Linked DNA regions of Homo sapiens. The protein of the gene in region 1 interacts with the protein of each later gene in a pairwise test. Each region holds a gene or a part of one and is shown in the gene's direction. Other genes may lie near its edges. The genes, in order: VTI1B, SLC16A7, CD46 and PTPN5.

Evidence for each region.
Region 2: the proteins of VTI1B (region 1) and SLC16A7 interact in binary tests that used the Homo sapiens proteins (3 or more experiments, as listed by UniProt).
Region 3: the proteins of VTI1B (region 1) and CD46 interact in binary tests that used the Homo sapiens proteins (3 or more experiments, as listed by UniProt).
Region 4: the proteins of VTI1B (region 1) and PTPN5 interact in binary tests that used the Homo sapiens proteins (3 or more experiments, as listed by UniProt).

What each region holds. Positions count from the first base shown.
Region 1 is NC_000014.9:67,646,548-67,650,632, reverse strand, and holds the end of VTI1B (vesicle transport through interaction with t-SNAREs homolog 1B), read left to right. Parts: 3' UTR 1-2,449; coding exon of another isoform or gene 2,450-2,586; 3' UTR 2,587-3,548; downstream 3,549-4,085. Other genes in the region: ARG2 (arginase-2, mitochondrial precursor), read right to left, coding at 2,450-2,586, 3,608-3,712, 3,895-3,989. UniProt on the Homo sapiens protein: V-SNARE that mediates vesicle transport pathways through interactions with t-SNAREs on the target membrane. These interactions are proposed to mediate aspects of the specificity of vesicle trafficking and to promote fusion of the lipid bilayers.
Region 2 is NC_000012.12:59,599,001-59,606,037, forward strand, and holds part of SLC16A7 (monocarboxylate transporter 2), read left to right. Parts: intron 1-7,037. UniProt on the Homo sapiens protein: Proton-coupled monocarboxylate symporter. Catalyzes the rapid transport across the plasma membrane of monocarboxylates such as L-lactate, pyruvate and ketone bodies, acetoacetate, beta-hydroxybutyrate and acetate.
Region 3 is NC_000001.11:207,762,022-207,769,058, forward strand, and holds part of CD46 (membrane cofactor protein isoform 3 precursor), read left to right. Parts: intron 1-4,991; coding exon 4,992-5,174; intron 5,175-5,585; coding exon of another isoform or gene 5,586-5,630; intron 5,631-5,757; coding exon 5,758-5,802; intron 5,803-7,037. UniProt on the Homo sapiens protein: Acts as a cofactor for complement factor I, a serine protease which protects autologous cells against complement-mediated injury by cleaving C3b and C4b deposited on host tissue.
Region 4 is NC_000011.10:18,732,770-18,739,806, reverse strand, and holds part of PTPN5 (tyrosine-protein phosphatase non-receptor type 5), read left to right. Parts: intron 1-1,842; coding exon 1,843-1,927; intron 1,928-6,171; coding exon 6,172-6,251; intron 6,252-6,434; coding exon 6,435-6,572; intron 6,573-7,037. UniProt on the Homo sapiens protein: May regulate the activity of several effector molecules involved in synaptic plasticity and neuronal cell survival, including MAPKs, Src family kinases and NMDA receptors.

The sequences.
Region 1 (4,085 bases):
AAGCCAAAGTAAAAACAAGAGTCCATTTTATAGTAGAAAATACCTATTTTTAGGAAGCCCCTTGCACCTCATCCTCTTGGCCATGAATTTAAGTTAAAACACTGTTGTGCTATAGTAGATTAAAAGAAACCTTTTAAGATAATGAAATAAACCATCCCTGTTCAACTAACATAACAGGCATAATTGTCAGGCGTTCTGGAAAAGGAAAAGGCTTGGTGTTGGGTGGGGGAGGTTTTCATCCTGCTTGTTGGCAAAATGTATGCCACCTCCAGTATGACTAGGAACCTTCCAGATGCCTGCCTGGAAATGAATCAAGTATGAAGGCAGAGGAAATCTGCCACTTGCACTAGCCAAACTGCATTCCCACTTTTGAACTCTAATGTGTTATCTGTATCTGTTAGAGCACCACACCATATGCCCTGAAATGTAGTTATTACTGCAAACTTCATTCTCACCCCTGCAGGCCTGAGCTCTGGAGGCAGGTTCCACATCTAACAACATCTTTTTGTCTCCCAGCAGACTGACCCAGTGTCTTGTACTTGATCAAGAGAAAATTCAGCCATATGTTAATTATTTTATCTGGACTTCAGTTACCTTCTGTTAAGGTTTGAGAACTTGTGTCAAAGTTCTCGGTAGTGTTCCTTTGGCCTGGAGCAAGTGGAAGGGAAGCTTAAACCAGAAGAACCTATCCAGACCTGCTACTATGCTCACCCCTCTAAATGCCTCACTTCTCTATAGAATTTAACTTTTTAGTTGGTTATTCTGGATGAAGGGTGATCTGAACAAGCTAGTATTCAGGAATACAAGTATCTAAGAATATTTAGGGTGGCCATAAAGTCTGGAAACACAGGCAAATGTACCTAATGGTTTATTGATATTACACTATAGTACATGATGTGCTGAATGCCATCATGTCCGTTCAGCATCTTCCCTTATTAGCAATGCATAGTTGAGTGTACAGTGCCAAACTGCAACCAACAGGTGTATTACTGTAGCATTTCCATCATTTCCTGCACATGGACCTGTGTTCCTGATTTGTCTCTGATTTCCACTGACTAAACCTGCACCTTTAGCATATCCCAGAAGTGGTCATCAAAGTTTGCACTATTAGAAATATATACATGACTTATGTTTCCAGACTATTGCCACCCTATAAATTAAGCAAACTGCTTTATGTATCTAGTTGACAGCATTATAACAGTGCAGTGGCACAATCATGGCTCACTGCAGCCTCAACCTCCCAAGTAGTTGGGACACCTGGCTAATTATTTTTTGTAGAAACGGGGTCACACTATGTTGCCCACGCTGGTCTTGAACCCCTGGGGTCAAGTAATCCTCTTGCCTTGGCCTCCCAGAGTACTGGGATTATAGGTATGAACCACTGTGCCTAGCCCCATGAGTGTCTTTTGGAGTAAAATATTGTAGCATAGGAACAAAGAGACAAGCCATGCCATATATAAGTGCTAGAGGTTATTAACCCCTGCTCTAAGTGGTGTTTTTAGGAAGCAAAGCAGAGAATTGAACCCCCAAGTTCTCTGGCCAATAACCTAAGGACCACTGGCAACATCTAAGATTGCAGATCTGAGAATTAGACCAGTACTGCCTGCCTTTTTGTACTGCCTAAGGTTCTGGCAGGCTGTGGCGCTAAGGAGACCATTTCTCAATGTGAGTTTCTATCCCAGCTAGTCAAGGGTTCTCTATAGCCCTGAACCTTTCAATCTGGGGTCTCTATCTATACCCTAGTTCCATCAGATGGTTACTGAAGCAGTATGATTTGGTAGTTCTTTAAATTTTGGAATGAAAGGTCATTTGAAGTAGCTTTAAAACCAGAAGCTTTCTGACAGAAATGGAAACTGTTTGCAAACAAGTATGAGTTTTGGAAAAGTAGCCAGTCTTGATAACGTAGAATTCATCTTAGTACTCTTTCCATCAGCCATTCTCATCTAACTGTATCCCCCTTATTAGAAATCCTTTCAGGCTCTAGTACAAGACCTACCCTACATAAAGGACCCAAGATATTGTCCAGTTTGCAGATTTCTTCAAGAGATCAGCTTTAGCTCCAAATTCACAACTCCCAATGAACCAATCTCTTAGAGTGCAAATTACAGCCTTGCACTCTTATCTTATCTTGCCTTCTTATCTTAATCTGCCTTTAGATAACTCAAAGAACTGCATCAGTTTGACAATTTATTCTTGTATTTAATTGTTTAAATATACAATTTTTTACTCATTATTACCTTAGTGTAATTTGGTAAGAGCCATGTCCAAGCATGACTCTAAAGGACTATATCCTTTTTATTAGCATGGCCATATAATTTTTAGCTACAAAAGTTTAAGCAAAAACAAACTCTGCAATGATGTGGAATAGCAGAAAAGATCCTTTGCAGGCAAGAGACTCTAGCATATTTACCTATGTAGTTAACAGGCTGCAGACCTGGTTGCTACATACCTGTATTGTGTATTTCCTCAGCAATATACATGCCTTCTCGATAGGTTAGTCCCCCGACAACAGGAGTTCCTGTGGCTGGAGCCAGTGTAGGGTCAAATGCATCAATATCAAAACTCAAATGGATTGGTCTTTGTCTCCTAAAAAGGAAGAGGATAAAATAATACTTAAAATAATACTTAACTGGTTGTCCTTGGACACTCATCCTTCTTATGGTTGCAACTCCTTGATTTTGTTGCTATTAGTCCTAGTACTTTGTTAATAAAGCTGTTAATACATTTCCAGGCTTCCTATTCTTGGAAGTTACTGAGATTGGCAATATTAACTTCCTACATACCACTTCATGATACTGCCATTTGTTCTGCATACCTCAGACAGACTAACTCCAATGTATATTTCTGCCTTACACTGGGTATTAGAACCTCTTATACTAATAACTGTCAATAGAGAGATTTCTTCACTTCTAGATGAGATTGGGCTCTCATCTAGAGACAATTTAATTAGACAATTTAAATTAGTCTAATTTAAATTGGCTTGATGTAAGTTATGGTTGCTCTTATTCTCTGAACGTAACAGCAGCTGAAGTGAACTCTAATTTTAGGTCTGCAGTTTTAACATCTTCCATTTCTAACTTCATTATAGCCCCAGTGTCCAAAGGCTGAAGCTAACAACTAAGTTTCTTAACAGCTTATGAAATGACATACTACCAGATAACAATTCTGACATTAATCACCCAGAAGTAAAGACTTGGTATTGGGAAAATGCTCTTAAAATTACCATTTGATTAGTATTCATCTGCCATCTTTCTACACTGCCAAGATTTGCTTAATATAAAACTCAGATGAAACAATCGTGAGGCTGGGAAGAATGGGACAGTTGAAACAATAAATGCTTGTCATCTCAGAAGATAAGCATTAAAGATGGAGATAAAGAAAAATTCATGAGACAGAAGATCTAGGCAATGATTTAGAGGAAACCTCCTCCCAAAAACCCCAGAGGAAGAATATGACCTGTGTTTCAAATTTTGCCTTTCTGAACTATTTAAAATTATGTGTATGTTTTTGCTTTGTATTTTAAAAGTAAAGCTGCTGTCCTCAAGAAACAGGCTAAAAGTGTGTTGCCCATTGGGGGTTTGCCCTGACATCAGTTATAGTTACTTACTTGCCAATCAGCAGATCAAATGTTCGTTCCATGACCTTCTGGATACCAAGTCGATCAATATCTCTCATGGAAAAATACTGGATATCATAGTTCTTTAAAATAAAACTGTGATGAGATATAAAGGGAGGAGTCCTTAGTTTAAAGAGCATTTTTAACAAATATGTATTTGGGGGAGAGGGTGGGTTTGTTGTAGTGACCTGCAATAGACCAAGTTAAGCATCAGCCTTTCAAATAGAACATAATTGGCTAGGACAGGCCCTAAACTTCAGCCAAATGCATCAACTTACTGTTCAGGAGGGTCCACGTCTCTCAGACCAATATACACAATACTTGCAGAAGAGATACAAGGTTTGATCCAGGAAAATCCTGGGAGTTGTGGTACCTATGAAAGGGAGAAATGGACAGGATTAATCAAGAATTCTTGTTCTCACCAAGATCATTATCATGTGCGTCCGTGGGTATGCAATCTGCTTTCTTC
Region 2 (7,037 bases), on another chromosome or scaffold:
CTGGTACAGTTAGTAAGTGGTTGAGCTGGGGCAAGCACCGATGCGATCTGTTTGGCTTTAACCACTGTGTCATATAGCTTCTGCCTTGCATGAAGCTAAATAAGAGCAAAGACCTTACCTGTTGTTTTCTCCATAGCCCAGTACAGTGTCTGGCATGTCATGGTTCAGAACAACTGATTATAGAAAGAAGGAAAGAGGGAGGGAAGCAGAACTAGAGGGAAGGAGGAAGAGGAGGAAATAAAAATTAGCAAGTCCAAGTGTCTCCCGCCTTCAACACTGAATCTGGCAGGAAATCCAGCATGAACTCTGCCCTGAGAACACAATAGTTGAGGCTCTTTTGAGGATTCCTTTTCCTTGTCTTGCATCTAATCATCTAGTTTATGATGCTCATTTATGCAGAATAGGAAAATATTCTCTTTGGTTTGACAAATTAGCAAAAGGTGCCCATGAAGTGCAAACATCAAAGAGTGACCTACTCAAGGTGGACCAGGAAAAAAAAAGAAGGAAGAAATTAAAAGGGCAGACCATAATGCAGGGGCACTGGATTTAAATTTTAGTTAAGCCACTGGCTGGCTTTGTCTTATGCAATGTTGTGGTAGTACTTGTATTGTTGTTCTGAACACCAAAGACGATAACAAATATAAGCTGTTTTATACTGTGCCTGATAAATAGAATGGCATGCGGCAAAGAATAATTACATTCTGTTATTGCCCTTTGTTCCCCTCCTCCCTTCAACTCATCCCAAATAAAAAGTACCCTCCTGTTTTCCACATCTTGAAGTAATCTGTGTTCATCTGAACTACTTCGTAACTTGATCTGGGCTTCTCTTAGGCTGATTCTTATATTTTACCTTGAATTACAATTATTTGGGAAGGCATCCTATCTCTCTTCCTGGGCTACATGGTCTTTGAGAGTAGATGGTATATCTGATTCATCTTGGAACCTCTGTGGAGCTGCTGCTTGGGACAGGACAGGGCAGACGAGGGGCTCTGAAGTCCAGCCTGTCTGGGTTTTGATTTTAGCTTTGCCACTTATCAACAAAGACAAGTTGCTAGACCTCTTTAAGTCTCGGTTTCTTCATGTGTAAAAATAGAATAGTAACCAATTTTGTATATTGGTTGTAAACATTAAATGAGATAATATCTGTGAAATAGCACTGTGCTGAGCACATACATAGAAATAACTCAATAACTACTTTTAGGTATTAAATATTTGGCTTTATGTTTTTTAGTTTATCATAAGCATCACTGGCTTATTTTTAACAGATTTTTGGGAACTCTGAAATGCCAAACTTGCCATTAGATGGCACAACAAAGTTGAATTGCATAATAAACCATTAAGTGGACTCCCTTTGAGAAGTCATCCTGGTTTGTCACAGGCTTTCTCAAAACTGTTTGGATCAAAGTGATTAAGAAATATCTTGGGAAACATCTGCACACTAGCTCTCAGTGAATAATGGAACTTTTTTTTTTTTTTAACTTGTGAGAAAGCTTCATTTTCTCAGTTGCTGCTATAAATGGTGAATCCAGGGGCTGAGTCTACCTATGTGAGAGATCCAGCTGTTTAAAATCATAATATGAGAGACTAGCCTAAAATGGACCATTGTCGAGAGGAATAAATAACACTTATCACACGTATTTGGTAATTAGTAAATAAGTGGAGGGTCTTTATATATCAACTGTAATCATTAAAAATGTGGGAGAAAATTAAACAAATTGGAGCTGACTATAATAAAACTAGTCCAGCTGGAGCTGGACTAACTGGGACTTGGGTGCACCATAGACAATTTCAACATATTCACAAATATCAGTGTTGATAAATGAAGCAAGTATTTTTGGAAATAATTTTTCTGACCTAATACTAAAACTCCCGCAAATGTTTTCATTAATACTCATTGAAGTCTCAAAGGACCTCATGAAAATCCTATGGGACAACTGAACGACAGCTACAAGATACTGGCCTAAAGGTACTTTCGTTAAGTTCCACAAAAATGTCTGTATGGTTCAATTATAGAGCCTGGTGATTAGTTTTATGTAATAGTTGGCATTAAAATAGCAACTTTCAATAGAAAATATTTTGTGTAAGTGGTGAACACAAATGAAATATTTGTTTAGATAAATAAAGATCCATATACAGTGTTGGTATTTTGTAGAAAGCATTTTATTATAAGCATTTGCTGTTTCTCCACCTCATAATACAATATGTATCATTATTAATTAGTCAATACCTCTAATCAGATTTCTATTGAAGCTAATATGTAAAAGAATGGTACTTTTTACAAAGCAGCTGCCCTACTAAGTAATTAACTTGAATATCTATATCTTTTTTAACTAGATTAGATAAGAATAAAAAATAAAACTACAAAGCATGCATTTGATAAGTTTCTAAGGGATATTAACATTTATCTTATTTTAAAAATGATTTTCAAAATTTCTAGGATTTGAAGTTCCATCAGTTCTTCTCAAATATGTGAAAGGCAAATTCAGTGATAAATGGCAGTCGGTGACAGTATTTTTCAACAGGTGGGATTATTGGCATTTGGGGTGGGACACTTTTTCATTGTGTAGGACTGTCTCTTTCATTGCAGAGCATTGGGTGTCTGTGACCTTTCTGAGTAAATTTGGGCTGCGATAACAAACTATAGACAGATTAGGTAGCTTATGAACAACAGAAATTTATTTCTCACAGTTCTAGAGGCTGGAAATCTGAGATCAGGGTGCTGGCATGGTCCAGGTGTTGGTGAAGGCCTCTTCTGGGTTGTAGACTGCTGGTTTCTTATATCTTCACATGGTGGGATGAGAGTGAGAGCTCTCTTTTATAAGGGTGCTAATCCCATTCATGAGAGTTCCTTCCTTATGACCTACTTAACTCCCAAAGTCCCCATGTCTTAATACCACTCCTTTGGGGATTAGGACTTCAACATGAATTTTGGAGGCACACATTAAGTCCGTAACAATGATCTATCTCTGTTTTCTATAAGTCAGTGGCTTTCCCTTAGTCATTGTAACAATCAAAAATGCCTCTCTACATTTTAATATACCTGTGGTGGAATGGTGATCCATATGGTTGAAAACTGTCAGCCAATAAGATCAAATTGAGATTGTTTAAACAATTTATTTGGGATCAGAGTACTTTCAGAGTACTTTCAAAATTATTTTGCCTTTCATTAAAGGATGAAAATAATACTCTTGTATAAAAATATTTTGTTTTGAAACAATGAGTTCTTTATTAGTAAGGCATAACAACTGTTAACTTTAATAATCAGAGCATCATTGACCTCCTAGCCTCCAAATTATTTGCTTTGGACTGTTAATAACCTTTGGCAGTATTCATCCCTAATGCTTCTTGAACTCCTGTTTTGGCTTTCATGTGCTCTTTATTTTGTTACTTCTCTCACCGCTCATTTACTGCTTCTTCTCCAGCTCGCCTTTCACCTCGTATTCAATATAAGTATGTCTTCCCCAGTTTGTGTTTTGGGCTTTTTTTTTTTTTTTTTTTTTTGAGACAGGGTTTCACTGCAACACCCAGGCTTGGGTGCAATGACATGAACTTGGCTCACTGCAACCACCACCTCCTGAGTTCAAGTGATTCTCCTGCCCCAGCCTCCTGAGTAGCTGGGACTATAGGCGCCCACCATCACGTCTGGCTAATTTTTTGTATTTTTAGTAGAAATAGGGTTTCACCATATTGGCCAGGCTGGTCTCGAACTCCTGACCTCAAGTGATCTGCCCACCTTGGCCCCCAAAAGTGCTGGAATTACAGACATGAGCCACTGAGCCTGGCCAGACTTTTCTTTAGCCTGCATTCTGTTGATTGACAAAGCTCATCTGCTCTGGACCTCCGCTTTCACCTCAGTAGGAATAACTCCCAAGCCATTTGCTGTAGTCCTGACCTTCCCTCAACTTTTAGGCATTTCCAGACATTTCTAGATGTTTGCAGGACAGCTTCTCTTTACTGTGCTTTTGATACTTCCAGTATCCTGTGGTCTCTTCCTTCCTTTTTGTCTTCTTTCTTTCTGTCACCCCCATTCTTCATATTGATATCAGCAGTATTCTAGCCTAGAAGCTTTTGAGACCACCCTTTCTCTGGACTTGTGTACATCCAAAATAATTTTTTAATTATTTATTTCTATTCTGTTGTTGCCAGAAGTTTCAGGTGCTTTTGACATACTACCTACAGTCATGTAATAGTCTCTTAGTGGGTATTCCCACCTCTGGTCTCTCACCCTACCAGTTAATTCTGTACATGGTATCAGATACTCTCATGGAAGCACACCTTTGTTAAGTAACACTCCCATCACCTAGGTCCAAGGACTGACATTTCAGTCCCTGCATGATGTAAGTCCAAACAGCTGTTCCATGTTCATCTCCCACTACCATCATACTCAACTCAAATGGAACTGTCCTCATGCCTCGTTCATTCTCATTCTACTTCCTACCGCCAAATCTTTGGCCATGCTGTTCTTTTATCTTGAAATGAATCTAACGTCCTACGATTTCTAGCTCTAACCTCACCTTCTAAGAAGTTGAGCTTAAACACCACATACAAATTTTCCTCTGACACCTCTGGATAGGTAGAATAATTTTTCTAAAATTTCAGGAACATTATGTTTATAATGTCTTATTTGACATTGTATAATAGAATGTCTTGACATTCTATTATATTTGATTTTATATAATTATTCAGTTTCTTAATATACTATAAAGTTGTAGATGTCAGGAATAATAATGTATTCATATTTATGTCATCTTTAGCATTTTGGTGGATTATAGAGTTGCAAGAAACTTGGAGGACATCTGTTTCCACTTTTATGTGTTGTTTTCATTATGTTCAATAAACCACCATCTATTATTTAAGTGTACACACTGAGGCAGACTGTTCTTTTAAAGGCAGTTCTACTTGTGACTCAAATTTTCTTGTTTCTACCTAGGGTCTTTGTTCAGCTTCCTGGGGCCACATGAAATGAATCCCTTTCTCATTTGAATGACATACTCTACCAATGTGGTGACAGCTCACATGTCTTTTGTTTTCTCTATCAATTTAACATATTCAGTTTTTCTTCCTGTTTTTTGCATGTGACCTGGTTACATTCTTTATTTAAGGCTGCTGTATTGTGGAGTAATTCAACTTTAGGAAAGTCCACAAATGCATAGAATACTTCAAGGATAACAATGGTTTTGAATGTAAATATTGGAATTGTTTTTCATGATGTAACTTGTCAATATCTCTTCAGGTGTCAGGGTGGGAAATCAAGGTATATATAGCGATCTACCTCTGGGAGAATCCCATAGTTATCTCAGGGCTGAACTTTCCTTTCTGTGCCAACAGTTTAATAAATAAATAAATGAATAAACCACTGGAGGATGATAGGAAAGCTCACTTTAACTTTTGATTGTAATTGGAAATTAGCCACTCAGTAAAATTATACTCTTTTATAGATTAATGCCCTAAGTAGTAAAACAACAAACATGTCTTGTGTGTGTGTGTGTATAATAAGTGAATTTAAGGACATTGGACCAAATAAGTGGCTATTAAGTAAAGTTATAAAGATAAGCTTTAAGTAAGAATAGCTTACATTTGTTGAACACTTCTATATTTAATACCTTACATGTTTTAACTAATTTAATCCTCAAAACCTTATGAGGAAGCATTTTTGTTATCCTCATTTTACAGATGGGCAGAGTAGAGCACAGAGGTGAAGTATTTTGCCCAAGGTTACACATCTTGTCATTGGAAGGGTCTGGATTTTAATCTGTTGAACAAAATGTACCTTTTCAATAGTATTAATTTCAAGTATTTCATGCTGCAGTAAATTTTAAGACATTCTTGGGAAAAGTCCGATAATTTTATTTTTTTTCTTTTTTGAGACGGAGTCTCACTCTGTCACCCAGGCTGGAGTGCAGTGGCACAATCTTGGCTCACTGCCAGCTCTGCGTCCTAGGTTCATGCCATTCTCTCGCCTCAGCCTCCCAAGTAGCTGGGACTACAGGCGCCCGCCACCACGCCCGGCTAATTTTTGTTTTTGTATTCTTAGTAGAGATGGGGTTTCACCATGTTAGCCAGGATGGTATTGATCTCCTGACCTTTTGATCCTCCCACCTCAGCCTCCCAAAGTGCTGGGATTACAGGCAAAGTCTGATAAATATTTTTTCAAACAGAGACTAGTAGTCAGGTATAATGAGTTTGGGTCTGTTACAACATAAAGTCAACAGGAATGATAAGGCTTCCTTACTATTTGAAGGAGTTACCTGGAACCAAGCTAGAAAGCTTAGAGAAAGTAACAACCCCTTGTGGATTCAAGGAGGCTGGAGAACCAGTAGGGACCGAAGGAACAGTAAGTCCAGGATGTCATTCCTATAACTCAGTTTGCAAGGTGGTAGGGATAGAATACGTGGGAGGTGGCAAGACTCCCATGGAAGCCCTGTGCTGTGGGTATCAGTGAGTGCATGAACAGAGTAGGGTCTGGAGAATTCTCATAGATGGGTATATATCAAATTTACAGTGAAGAGGGATTTTGAATAAAGCCTCTGACATATTTTAAGGCATAGAATGCAGTACTTTAACAACTATTTATTCCCCTGCTGTGTTCCAGACACTGTTTTGGATGTTAGAGAGATGGCTGTAAATAGAACAGGTAAGTCCTTTTTAGTCTTGAGTTACACAGATATCAAATATATTCTCAAAGCAAGGTTAAGCAATTTATGTCCTTGAGCCAATTTTTTTTGTAGACCTCTCATGCCATCTTCTCTATGTAGCCAGTCTTATTCTGTAGTTATCTCTTTATTCTCTTTTCCTTTTTTCTCAATCTGTGTCACATGTCAGATCAGAGACTTTGAAGACAGATAGATATAGCCCAATGAAATTTCGACTAAGCTACTTCTAAGCTGTTTGACCACAGTCAAGGTATGTAACTTTTAGAGCCCCAGTTTTCTCATTTTGGAAATAATAAAATTTATTTTATGAGTTGTTGTTGGAGAAATAATGTAGGTAGTCAATAAATGATAATCATCATCATGTCATTTTTATCTCTACCTTTA
Region 3 (7,037 bases), on another chromosome or scaffold:
TTCTAGACAATAAGACAACTTTTAACAAACTTCAGAAAATTGAAATCATTCAACATGCATTATCACAATAGAATGAAAGCAGAAATCAATAACAAAGCCAATCCCCAAAGAATTGGAAAGTGTACAGGACACTTCTAAATAACCCATGCATAAAAGAAGTAGTCAGCAGGGAGATTAGAAAGTGTTTTGAATTGAATAAAAACACAACATCTCAAAATATCCAAATATGTAGGATGCAGCTAAAGCATTGCTTACAGGGGAATGTATAGCATAATATACTTGTGTTAGAAAAAAAGAAAAGTCTCAAATCAATGATCTAATTTTCCACCTTAAGAAACTAAAAAAGAGCAAGTTAAATCCCAAACTAGCAGATGTAAGGAAATGATAAAAATAGAGCCAAAATCAATGAAATTGAGAAAAGAAAAAAAAATAGAGGAAATCAGTGAAACCAACAGTTGCTACTTGGAGATCAATAAAGTGTGTAAACCTGTAGCCAGACTGACAAAAAAAGACGCAAATTAACCAATACTGAGAATGAAAGAAGTGGTGGCCAGGCGCGGCACCCCAGCCAGCTTGAAGACCCTGCCCTCCTGCAGCCGGCAGGGGCAGTCACTCCCGGACTTGTCCTTTTAGAAGTTCCAGCTTTACCACTTGCTGGTGGAGCCCAACCACTGCCGCAGGGTCCTCATCGCCAACACGCCTGGCAGATCCAAGAGGAGATGGCCCAGGATGAGACGTGGCACACACAGGCACCCGAGAGTGTGGGGTTGGCGTTGTTCCACTGCCTGGTTTCTGCAGAGATCCTGTGCCTGTGGCCTGTGCCCGCCATGTGGAAGCCAGAGGGGGTGTGCCATGCCCCCCGCTTTGGACACTGCTGCGTGAAGGGGCCAGTTTTCAGACCTTTGCTCTGTCACCTCAGCACTGGCGCCAGGAGCCCTGAAGAGCAGCATCTGGGAGACGGACAGCCCTGGGGAAAATAGAGGAGGCGTTCAGAAGTAGCTAGATGAGATATTTGAAATACTGAAGACCAAAAACCCCAGTTTGCATGGAAGAACTGGCCTCAGATGTGGTCAGTTCCTATGATGACCTGGACACACGGTGCTGACCCACACGATGGGAGGTGGCCCTGCAAAGCATTCAGAGGCTTGGGCCTGCTGCCGTCCGGCCTCCCACCTCCAGCTGCAATTGCATTCTGACCTGGGCAAGTAGGAACACGTAGTGGAGATCCTGATGGAGACCTGAGCCAGGCGTCCCGGAGTGCTGGCCAGGCGTGGAGTACGGGATCCAGCTAAGGGAGACTGGCCAGCCTATAGCCCCCCAGCCTTGCTGGCTCCTCTGCTAATTCCAGCAGGGTCTGCAGCCCCAGACCCATCCCCTTCCTTCCCGTCTGCAGAGGGCAGGCCAGAGGCTGGTCTCAGTGGGAGCTAGGGCTCTCCTCAAGGGCTTTTTGACCTTGGGCCAGTCTTGACATCCCCACAGCCCTGCGCCCCTCATCACTTTTCGTGTCTCTCGGAGACGGCGAGCTGCAACTGCAGCAATCTTGTTTAAATTTAGGTAGGTGAATTTCTTAGAATTAAGTTTCATATGTTTTGAGCAATAAGTTTTCTTAAGATATATATATTTTAATCTTTTTAGTTTTATCTCTGAATATTTTTTATTTTTTTTCAATGTATTTTTTTTCTGGAAACATTCTGTGCTGCTACATTAGAGCCTACACAGTTTAGTTGGTACATTTCATTCTTTTAAGGTTCAAATAAGGGATTTTATTTTCCAGTGAGTTTCCTTGCATTGTTAACAAGTCAACAGCGTTAACGTATGATTTTTTGGTTTTTTTTTTTTGTATACTTTAAATTTGTGTGCAACCCTTCTCATTTATGCCCTGTGTTACAGTGAGAGCTTGGTCAAAGTGGGGAAAACACACACAGCTGCTACACTTTTTTTTTTTTTTTTTGTCATTGGAACATTTGTGCCATGTCTTCCTAGACTTAAGTGTAAATTATGGAGGGTTTTATTTGACAATTTATATGTAAATGTCATTGAAGGCTAAGGTTAAATCTTTGGAAATCACAGGCACCAGTTGATCTTTAGAGACCTCAGATCCCCTCAGGTGGCGCCTTGTGATAGGCGGTGTTCTGGGAGGCTTCCTGTCAGGTTCCACAGCACAGGCACCTGCTCTGGGCACGGACTGAGCTCCTGGGGTGTGCACGGAGCTGCGGTGCGCCAGTCACATGCGCTTGGAAACAGCGTGTGCTGCTGGATTGGAAATGCCTACGTTGCTCTGTTAAATTGGTGCTGGAGCCAAAACCTAAGGTTAAATTTAAGTCTAGAATGAAAGAAATCTGAATCCATGTAATTAATGGCCGCTCGATCTTGAGAGTCCTTGACGGCCCTGCCTCAGGAAGTGAGGTGGGGGTGCCTACACCTTTCACTTTCCTTCCTCACGTCCACCCCGTATGTGTTTCTCATCCTTTTTCTGACTTCCCCCCATCCCTTAGCCAAAAAGCTTTATATTCTTTTGTGCATATGGTCATTCTTTAATATCAGTGATGTAAACTTTACTTGATTACTTTACAAAATTATTCAACAGACAAACAAAAGAATGAAAAAGAGAATATCACTAAATATCCTACAGACATTTAAAGGATGACAAGGGAATATTATAAACAACTTTATGCCTACAAATTTGACAACTGAAATGGACAGATTCCTTGAAAGATACAAAATGTCAAAACTCACTTGAAGATATGGATAACCTGAATACTCCTATATCTACCAAAGAAATAAAATTTGTAGTTAATAACCTACTGAAGGTCCAGATGGCTTCACTGGGGAGTTCTACCAACCATCTAAGGAATAAATCACAGCAATTCTACACAAGCGTTTCAAGAAAGTGCAAGAGGAGGGAACACTTCTCATCCCATTTTATGATGATAGCATTGTCCTTATACGAAAACCAGAAAACAAAAACATTATAAGAAAATTACAAATAATATCCTTGATGAACACAGGACCAAAAATCTTCAACAAAATATTAGCAAACCAAATCCTGTGATACATAAAAAGAAAAGTAAATCATGACCAAGTAGGATTTACCCTATGAATGCAAGATTAGTTCAAATGCAAAAATTAATCAGTGTAATTTGCCACATCAGTAGACTATTAAGGAGAAAAAAAATCATGTGGTTATCTTATTAGATGCAAAAAACAAAGAAAATGTTTGACAGAATTCATCATCTTATTTTTTCATGATAAAACTTCTCAGCAAACTAGGAACAGAAGGGTACTATCTATCTTACCCTGATAACAGACATCTACAAAAATCTCACAGCTAACATTACACTTCATGGTTCAAAAAAATTATACTTAGTGGTAAAAAGTAACATTGTACTTAGTGGTTAAAAAAACCTTACTTACATTTCTGTCTAATTAATAAAGACCTAATTCTGGAAGGAAAACAGTGAGGATGTCCACTCTTACCACTCCATTCAGCATTATATTGGAGATCCCACCCAGTACAGTAAGGCAAGAGAAAGCTATTAGGCACACATGTTGGAAAAGAAGAAATAAAAACTGTCTCTACTCACAATGAGATGCCACTAAATACCTATTGGAAAGGCCGAAATGTAAACACACACACCCCAAACTGACAATACCAGGTATTGACAAGGATATGGAGCAGATGAAACTCTCATATACTGATGGTGAGAATCAAAGTGCAATGACCACTTTGGGACATTTTTGGCATTTCTTATAAAGTTAAACATACTCTTATCATACAACTCGGCAACCCAAATAAACTGAAAACATTTTCACACAGAAACTTATATGAGGATGTTCACAGCAGCCTTATTCATAATCACCCCAAACTGCAAATCGCCACATGTTCTTGAGTTGGTGAATGAATGAACCACCTGTGCTACCTCTAAAAGATGGACTCGTACTCAGCAATAAAAAGGAATGAACTGATTCATGCAGCAACACAAATGAATTTTGAAAGCATCATGCTTAGTGAAATAAGCCATACTAAGAAGACTGTAATTTCATTTATGTGACATTCTGAAAAAGTCCCACTATAGGGATAAAAGCAGATCAATGGTTAGCTGGTTGTGGAAGTGGGGATGAGGGGGAAGAGGGGTAACTCACAAAAGAGCATGAGGAAATTCTGGAGAGTAATGGAACTTTTCTGTATCTTTACTATGGTGGTAGTTACATGATTATTTGCATTTGTCAAAACTGATACAGCTGTACACTTGAAATGGTGAATTTTACTGTATGTAAATTATATCCAATAAACCAACCTTTACAAATAACATTAGGTACAATTAGACACAACAAAAGGTCAGTGAACCTGAAGACAGGTGAATAGAAATTGAACCTTATTTAAGAAGAAATGTTGACTAAAGAAAGAGAGAGGCTTACAGACCTGTGGGAGAGTATCAAGCAGTGAAACATACATGTAATTGGAGTTTCAGAAAGACAGGAGAGAGAATGGTGTAAAATATTATTTGAAAAAATATTGGCCAAAAATTATCCAAATTAGATCCAAAACAACCTCAGATCCAGGAGATTCAGTGAACCTTCAGCAGGATGAATAAATTATTAAAATTTACCACCACCACCACCCCCCTGCAGTAGTTTGGTAAAAACTACCAAACAAAATTTTAAAAAGCAGCCAGTGAGTGGGGAAAACAACAAAAACCCGTATTACATTTAGGAGGGCAGGGACAAGTAAGAATGACAGCCAGCCAAGTTTTCTTAAGAAAATGTGGTTACAATATGGTTATCTCTGTTAGTGCTGAAAGAAAAATAAAACACCCTAGAATTCTGTATGAAGGAGAATATATTAGTTAACATTTAAAGTCTTTTAAAAAATGTTTTTAACATCTTGCATTCCATTCCTTGTCTCTGTTCACACTGGAAATTACTACTTTGTACTACTTTTTCTGCTAAAGCAGATATCCATTAATTCTGAGGTTTCTCTAATTTTCCAGTGGTCAAATGTCGATTTCCAGTAGTCGAAAATGGAAAACAGATATCAGGATTTGGAAAAAAATTTTACTACAAAGCAACAGTTATGTTTGAATGCGATAAGGGTTTTTACCTCGATGGCAGCGACACAATTGTCTGTGACAGTAACAGTACTTGGGATCCCCCAGTTCCAAAGTGTCTTAAAGGTACAAAGGTTATCTTTTTTCTGTCTTGGTTTGTTATTGTTGTTGCTGTTCATTTTAGACTTTATTTCTTTGATATTAACTATCAGTCATACAAAATAACTGAAAAGAAACAATTTTAGTATTTAACTCTGTCTTGTATTCATTTCTATGCCAGATGAATGACACGAAATTCACATAAAATTCTGCTGTTGTGATTTTTTGTGCTTTTCCAGGGTTCTTAGCACGTTATGTACATTGCATGGGTATATGCTTTTAATATTTTTATGTATAAAAAGTGAATTACAACAACTTTTTGGAATTGAAACATGGGCATTTTTATCTAAGTAAGTCAACAATGGCATAATTCATATAAATGAAATGAGAGCAATAACTCCCAAGTGGTTGATCTTCTAACATTATTTTGTTTCCTAGTGCTGCCTCCATCTAGTACAAAACCTCCAGCTTTGAGTCATTCAGGTTTAGTAGCTTCTTCCTTATATGTCTTCTTCCTTATATGTTACAAGATATAAGGAATTCCTGGAGAAATTGCCAGCAATAACTCCCAAGTGTTTGGTCCAATCTACATTATTATTTTGTTTTCCAGTGTCGACTTCTTCCACTACAAAATCTCCAGCGTCCAGTGCCTCAGGTTTAGTAATTTCCTGCTTATAGTTTTTCAAAAATCCTTTAAATTCCTGGTGATTTTTTATAAAATCCTTCAAATTTCTGGTGATGTTCACTTATTTTTAGTAATGAAAGGAGGGAGGACATTTGTATAGCCATTTTAGTTGTTATACATAGTGATTCTAAAATTATTTGCCATAATCTGATATAAACAGGAATATGACCTTGGGAAAGTTGTATAAATTTTGAATGTGTTTATATATATATGTTTACATTATATATAGAGAAATTGATTTAGTACCTTCCTTATTGGGTATTAGTAAGGTATAAGTGGGATGCATTTAAAGCACTTAGCACAGTGCCTGGTGTAGAGAAAGCTCTTAGAGCTAGCCAATATGACTTATCCTACACTTAAATTAATGTTAGGGAAGGGGAAGGTTCATGTATGTTTGTTAGTATGTGTGTGTGTTAATATGTTAATATGTTTGTTTGTTAATATGTATGTTTTGTGTCATCAACTTTGCTATTTTATTCTTTTCAGAAGTGATCTGTTGACACCTTTACTGAGTTTGTTCCTATTGCAGGACTCTTTCATTTCCTGGAATGCAACTAGTTTGAGTCTTCTGATGTAAAACATTTAAACAGGGAAATTTCTGCTGTCCTCAGAACAAGATCTGTATTTCTGCCTCTTCCCTACCCACCCCTCTTCCACACCTCATAATGTTATTTATTTTTTTTCTCTTTAGTGGGCAGTTTTATCTGGCAATAGCAACTCAATTTTATAGCAACTGAAAGGCAGGAAAAGTCCTTATTTACTGAAATAAAATAGAAGACTTTTGCAGGGACTCCTGGTCAACCACTGTGCTTATGACTGGAGAGATTATTTTGATATGATGGAAGGAATTATCCTGATTTCAGCACTACCATCTCTGGTTTCACTTTGCTTCCAGCAGAAGCAAGAGACAATAGTAATTGTGGGTAGCACTTCAGTCTGGGCAGACTGTGCTTAGTTAACATCATTTCTGTGGTCTTCAGTTTCCCTTTAGTATAATGTGAGTGTTGAACTGAAATCTCAATCACTGGCTTCTAATTTGGTTATATATTTCCTATCTCCCTAATATTTTAAAGGATCGAAGAGAATTATGCATGTTAACATAGTAATTAAGATACCTTCTTATAGGCTGGGTGGGGTAGCTCACACCTGTAATACCAGAACTTTGGGAGGCCGAGGTGGGTGGATCACGAGGTCAGAAGTTCAAG
Region 4 (7,037 bases), on another chromosome or scaffold:
AAAGCTCCATTCCTCAACCAAATTCACCAAACAGGTAACTCCTCACTTCTGTGAGCAGGAAAAGGCAAGAGGCCAAGAGTATCTGGGGTGAGTTCCTCCTGGTAGAAGCCACAGGGGTACAGAAGCAGGTGCCTCCTCCCTCATAGCTCCCTTCCTTTGGCCTCCGCCCTGGGCCTGTCTGGACCGGGTAGCTCTCCCCTGTGAGAAGACCTCCATCATCATCTGATCTGCTGCTCCAAGTTCTCCAGAACTTGGTACCACCTGCATACACCATCAGCACCCCTTACCTCGTGTGGCCCCAGCCTCCTTTTCCAGCCTTATGCCCCATGCCCCACCCCTGCAGGGACTGTCCACTTCAAACTGGGCCAGTCTCGTCCGTGCCTTTCTCCTCCTGTGCCTTTGCTCACATCATCACTCACTCCAGATGCCTCTAGAAAGCCTTCTTTAACCACCCCAGCCTCAGCTCCTTCTCTGAGCTCCCACTGCCATCATCTCCCCTTCGAGAAAGAATCACATCCTCTACCTCATTTCCTGTCCGGTGGGTCTTTGTTGAGGAAGGAGCGTGGCCTGAGCACCCACTCTGGGGGCAGTTTTGCACGTGTTGTATTTTTATTTTGATTTTCACAATCCTGGAAAGTGTGATGATCCTCATTTTACAAAGCCCATACTTAGTGTGTCCAAAAACAATGAACAGTGTGAAGTTAGGTGCAGTCAGGGGCTAAGCTGGTGGACAGACTGGAAGGAAATGCAGAGGCAAGAGGCATGGAGAGTCATCCCGGAAGATGTCAGGAGGAGACAGACTCATAGGTGAACTTTTTTTTTTTTTTTTTTTTTGAGACAGGGTTTCACTCTTGTTGCCCAGGCTGGAGTGCAGTGGTGCGATCTTGTCTCACTGCAACCTCCGCCTTCCAGTTCCAAGCGATTCTCCTGCCTCAGCCTCCCTAGTGGCTGGGATTACAGGGGCCCGCCACCAGGTCCAGCTAATTTTTGTATTCTTATTAGAGATGGGGTTTCAACATGTTGGCCAGGGTGGTCTCAAACTCCTGACTTTGTGATCCGCCTGCCTCGGCCTCCCAAAGTGCTGAGATTACAGGCGTGAGCCACCGCGCCCGGGCAGAGGTGAACTTTAAAGGGTGGGAACAACTTGGAGAGATGGGGGTAGGGGAGACCAGCGCCCTCAGGAGGCAGAACGTCACAAGCTCAGACTCAGAGGCAGGACTGAGAACAGCAGATTAACAACAGGGGAGAAACAGGCCTAACTGGAAGTAAAGAGAGGCCAGATTCAAGAAGCCCTCACATGCCAGGAGAGAAGTTCAGACTCAGAGCTCTGGACACAGACAGTGGTTGGGAGGTGCAGATATTCCTGGGATCTCAGAAAGAGGCTTCTCTCCTTCTGGAGAATCAGGGAAGGCTTCTCAGAGGAGGCGGGACATGAGATGAGGATGGGGTGTGTGTTACCACAGAGCAAGCAGCACGAACCTAGGTCCCGAGATAGGGATGCCCAGGGAGGAATGCTGCCCAGGGAGCATGGAAGAAGGCAGCCATTGGCCAGGTCACTTTTTGTCTTTTTCTTCATTCATCAGCTATTTATTGACTGTCTATATATGGCAGGCTGGCTCTCCATAAACAATAGTCATTATCATATTTATTACACACTCAGCATGTGCCAGGCACTGTTCTGAATGCGTCGTGAGCACTAACTCTCTTAATAGTAAATGTTTGTTGAATGAATGCGTGCACTCAAGCCAGCCCCTGGGCTAGGAGTTGGGGGCACAGCAGCCCCTGGATTCAAACATCTGTGAGGGCCCATAGCTGCTCACACCCCGTGTCCTCCTTCCACAGGAAATCCCCATGAACTTTGTGGATCCGAAAGAGTACGACATCCCTGGGCTGGTGCGGAAGAACCGGTACAAAACCATACTTCCCAGTGAGTACTCACTGTCCCAGAGGGATGGGGGCAGGCTCAGCTTCACCTGGGGATCCCCTCACCCTGAGGAGGACCCTCAGCTGGGCCTCTAGGGGTGACAGGACTGGAGGAGGTGGGACAGAGGGCTGGGGGTTGCTGGCTGAAGGGAAGCGCTGCCCTGGTGAGGCCAGAGGCGAGTACATTTCCTCGCACAGCACTCTCTGGTCCTTTGCCCTGCCTGGCCACATGTTGTGCTGGACCCTCTAGAAACCCAAAGAGAAAGGGTGGTAATGACAGCAGTTCCTAGCCACACTGTGGTAACCGAAACTCTTTTCAGAGTGGGCAGATTTTAAGGAAAGGAAGTTAAGGCTTAGAGAGGTTAAGTGGCTCACCTGCAGTCCCACAGCTAGGAAGTGCAGAGCTGAATTTCAGACCTGGGCCTCTGTGATCCCAGAGTCAGGCTCTCTGTCTACACTGTGTGGAGTGTGGTCGAATTGTAAGCCCTCTAACAGGGACATCCACTCCCACAGGCAAATGAGTTGTCTCTGTCAGGGAGTGAGCTCCCCATTACTCAGTATATTCAAGTGAGGCGGCACGAGCAGTCCCCTAGAAGGTCTGAAAGGGGTTTTCCTCCTTTGGGGGCAGTTAGACCAGGTGACCTGATGCTCCTCTTTCAGCCCTGGGGTATCATTTTCAGATAACTTTTATCAAGCCTCGATGAGCCTGCCACCCTCGCCAAGTTCTGACCCCAGTCCCCAGGGCTAGCTTGGGCGTTGACTTGTTGAAAGTGAATCCCCATAAACCTACTCCATTCAGTTTGTGGAGTAGCGAGGCTTTTAAAAAGCAGTTTTGCCATCAGCATCTCCAACAACATGTAAGATGTCATGACTTATTTTTAACTTTTAAAATATCGACTTGTAGTTGCTATGGTTACACAGTCTCTAGGTAGTTCCGGTTAAACAAAGAGCCATTTAAGGCCAGGATGCATTATTCAGGGATGCTCACCTCTTCCCTCGTCTTGCCCTCCCCGATCCCAGCCCTACCTGGAGGGAGGGACTCGAGTATCCTAGAACCTTGGACTTTGCTGGCTGCTCAGAATGGCCACTGGGGGAAGGTGGGAGCAGACTAGGATTCCGTGCAGATGCAGTCCCCGCTGCATTCCAAGAGGCTTGAGCTGCCTCCAACCATGCCCTGAGCCTCCAGGCCCCCGAGCCCAATAAAGAATCTTGTCTGTGTCCAGCAAGAATGGAGCCTGTGCCCTCAGAGACTGGGTTGGGGGGTGCAGAGGGCAGGTGAGGCTGAGCAGAGGCTGCCTCTGAGATCCAGGACGCGCTGAGGTTTGTTCTCTCATTCACTGGGCACACATTTCCTCGGCTCCTGCCCCAGGGGCTGAGGATTTAGACATAAATAGGACACAGACTCTGTGCACAAGGAGCTTCCAGCCTAGCGGGGGAGAGAGGTCCATGCACAGTTACAGTCAGAGTGAACAGTAACCCACAGGCAGCATTGAGAACAAGATGCTGGGAGCAATTTCTGTCCCCTTCTCCGCCGTGTCCCAAGCATCAAAGCAGTGCTGCCTGGCACATGGTAGACATTCTGCACCTATTTGGACTGTTTTAATTTTTGTAGAGATGGAGGTCTTGCTCTGTTGACCAGGCTGGTCTCAAACTTCTGGCCTCAAGCTGTCCTCGCCTGCTTCGGCCTCCCAAAGTGCTGGGATTATAGGCATGAGCCACCATGCCGGGGTCTGCACCTATTTGAATGAATGAATGAATAATATCTCTCAAATCTACATCCTCTTCTCCAGCCTCACTGCCAAATGATGTTTTTGAGGTTAGGGCTTTCATGTTGTCCAATTCCAGGGGACACAATTTACATAGACTACATTGACATAAGTGCCCCCTGGAGCCGTGCCAGGCTGGACAGCCCTGTGATCCTTGACACTTCTTACTTGGATCATTGCAGTAAACCTCTAACTGGTCTTCTGGCTTCCACACTCTCCTCTCCATCTTCTACCATTGTCACCAAAATGAGGCAAAACAAATCTAATTGTGTCATTCTCTTCCTTAAATGCCATCATTGTTGTCACCCTCGTAATCCTCAGGTTTAAGTCCAGCTTTTTTTTTTTTTTTGGGGGAGACAGAGTCTCACTCTGCTGCCCAGGCTGGAGTGCAGTGGCACAGTCTCGGCTCACTGCAACCTCTGCCTCCTGGGTTCAAGCAATTTCTGGCTAATTTTTGTATTTTTAGTAGGAACAGGGTTTGACTGTGTTGGCCAGGCTGCTCTCCAACTCCTGACCTCAAGTGATCCGCCCACCTCAGCCTCCCAAAGTGCTGGGCTTACAGGCTTGAGCCACCACGCCCGGCCTAAATCCAGCTTTCTAAGCCTGGTTTATAAGACCCTTTGTCGCCTGGTTCCTCTCCAGCCTCACCACTCACCACTCCCTACCCTGCACTGTGCACGTGAATCTGACAGAACAGCATTGCCTGCAGACAAGGAGAAGGGAGACGGCCCATACAGAGCTTCCTGCCCCTCTCTGCTGCAGGTCCCCCAAAAGCCCCCCTCCCGTTTACCCTGTCTCCTCTCCATCCCTGCCACCCTCTACACCCCCTCTTCACAAGAACTGCCCCAAATCACCTGCCAAAACCTTAGACATTGGGGTTGGGCTAAAGAGGCGAAGCTTGTGCCCTTTACCTCCCCAATTTCTCCTACTGGGTTTAGGATCCTTCTTTTTATCCTTTAACTTGTGGAACTTGTAATAATGTCAGGAATAACAGCAACTGATACTTCGTGTTGGTCCTAGTTACTGGCATAAGGACTCTAGTTGTTAAAGTTAACTCCTTTACAAGATAAGCAAGGTCATTGTGGAATGACCATCCCCAGATTACAGATAAGGCACAGGGAGATAAAGTAAATTGTCCATGTTGACACTGCTAGTAAGTCAGAATCAGGATTTGAACCTAGCCTCTCTGGCTCAGCGGTGTAGACTCTTAATGACTCCCCTATACTGCCTGTGAGAGCCTCCTAATGTGCACACTGGAAGTGCCTTTAGTCCAGTCCTCCCTATTATAGGAAAGAAACTGAGGCCTGGACAAGTGAGCTGATGACAAAACTAAACCAGAACCCAGGAATCTGGGGCCCCAGCCAGCTTCCCCCTTACCCCATACAACCTCAGTCTTGGCCTCTGCAGGCTGACAGAATAGTCAATGCAGAGAGGCTGTAGCTGGAACAAAACAAAATCTACTCCAGGAAGAAGAGCAGAGTGGGGGCTGGGCACAGTGGCTCATGCCTATAACCCCAGCACATTGAGAGGCCGAGGTAGGAGGATCACTTGAGCCAGGAATTGGAGACCAGCCTAGTCAACATAGCAAGACCTCATCTCTACCAAAATAAACAAATAAAAATAAAAAAATAAATTTAGCCAGGTGCAGTGGCTCATGGCTTAGTCCTGCTTACTCAGGGGGTTGAAGCAGGAGGATCACTTGGGCCCAGGAGTTTGAGGCGGCAGCGAGCCATAATCGTGCCACTGCACTCCAGCTGAGTGACAGAGACCCTTTTACTATGGGATTTGACATGTGAATAAATTGAAAGGAAAAAAAACCTTTTTGCATATGTGGACATGAGGCTGAGACCCCACAGTCTTAATCCAGATAGAGGAGACTATCGTTTTCATGTTAATAGCCTCCGTCAACTTTCTACTCCCGAATCTTAACAGCCCTTTATATTTATAAAGCACTTTACAGTTTACACAGAACTTTCACATCTCTTTTCTCATTCATCTTCCCAACAGCCCAAGCAAGTAGGCATCTTTGCCTCCATTTGACAGATAGGAAAACTAAGGCTTAGAAAGGCCATGTGTTTTACAAGCCTACACAGCAAGTCAATGACAGTGTGTACTCAAGCTAGCTGTCTCTTGCTGAACAAGATCTGTACAGGAATTTCCCTAGGTAATTCCATTGTTGACTTAGCTGTCTCCTCTCCAGAAGCTAAGATGCAGTGAGTATAGGGCAACTTAAGAGGCACAGGCTAAGGATAGAGACAGAGGTAGAGACCCGGGGACCCCCCTCTCTCTCCACCCTCCTCCTCATCCTGAGTCCTCACCTACAAAATGAACCATGAATGGGTCAATGTTTTGCTGCTGGGCAAGGGAAGGAAGAACTGCTAATGTCGCAGAAGAAGTGTGGGTATGCTGGAATAGGCCAGAGCAAGTGGGTCCTGCACCAGAGGGCCCAGTTTCCAGCCTTACTTGTCTCCCACCACCCCAGACCCTCACAGCAGAGTGTGTCTGACCTCACCAGACCCTGACGACCCTCTGAGTTCCTACATCAATGCCAACTACATCCGGGTACGTATTCCCACCCTGACGGCCTCTTGCTCAAGGGGAGGCCTGAGTCGATGGGATCCATCCTCCAGCCTTGTCCCTACACCAGTCTGGCTCCTGCCAGCTCCTGTGAAGAGCCTGAGTGTGGGGATGGGGTCCTGGGAGCACTGCCTCTGACCCTGACAGCCTGGACTTGGCTGGCCGCAGGGCTATGGTGGGGAGGAGAAGGTGTACATCGCCACTCAGGGACCCATCGTCAGCACGGTCGCCGACTTCTGGCGCATGGTGTGGCAGGAGCACACGCCCATCATTGTCATGATCACCAACATCGAGGAGATGAACGAGGTAGGGACCCCCGTCCCCATTCTAAGTGTCTGCTACATTGCGCCCTACACTAAGTATCTTGTTCTCAAATTAATCTTTATGACAATCTCAAGAGGTCGGCGGTGTTCACTCCGCTGCCAAGATGAGGAGATGTGAGGCTCGGTAAGGTTAAGTCATTTGCCCCGGGCTTCACAGATAGAGGCATGCCTGGAGGTGGCCTCTCCACTTCCAGTGCCCGTGACCTTAAACACAGCACTCTGCTGCCTCCCAGCCTGCCAGGACAGATGTTGGCTACTCCTGTACCCATAAGGGCCCATTTAACCGAATCTCCATAAAAGTCCTTCAGATGGGTAGCACTTCTGTTTTCCAGAGGAAGAAACTGAGACTCAGGAAACGGAAGTAGCTTATAGAGTTTGCAGCTGAGATTTGAACCCAACACTCTGTAGCAGCAACCCTGTTGCCCTTGTGTATCTCTCCGCTGGCCCT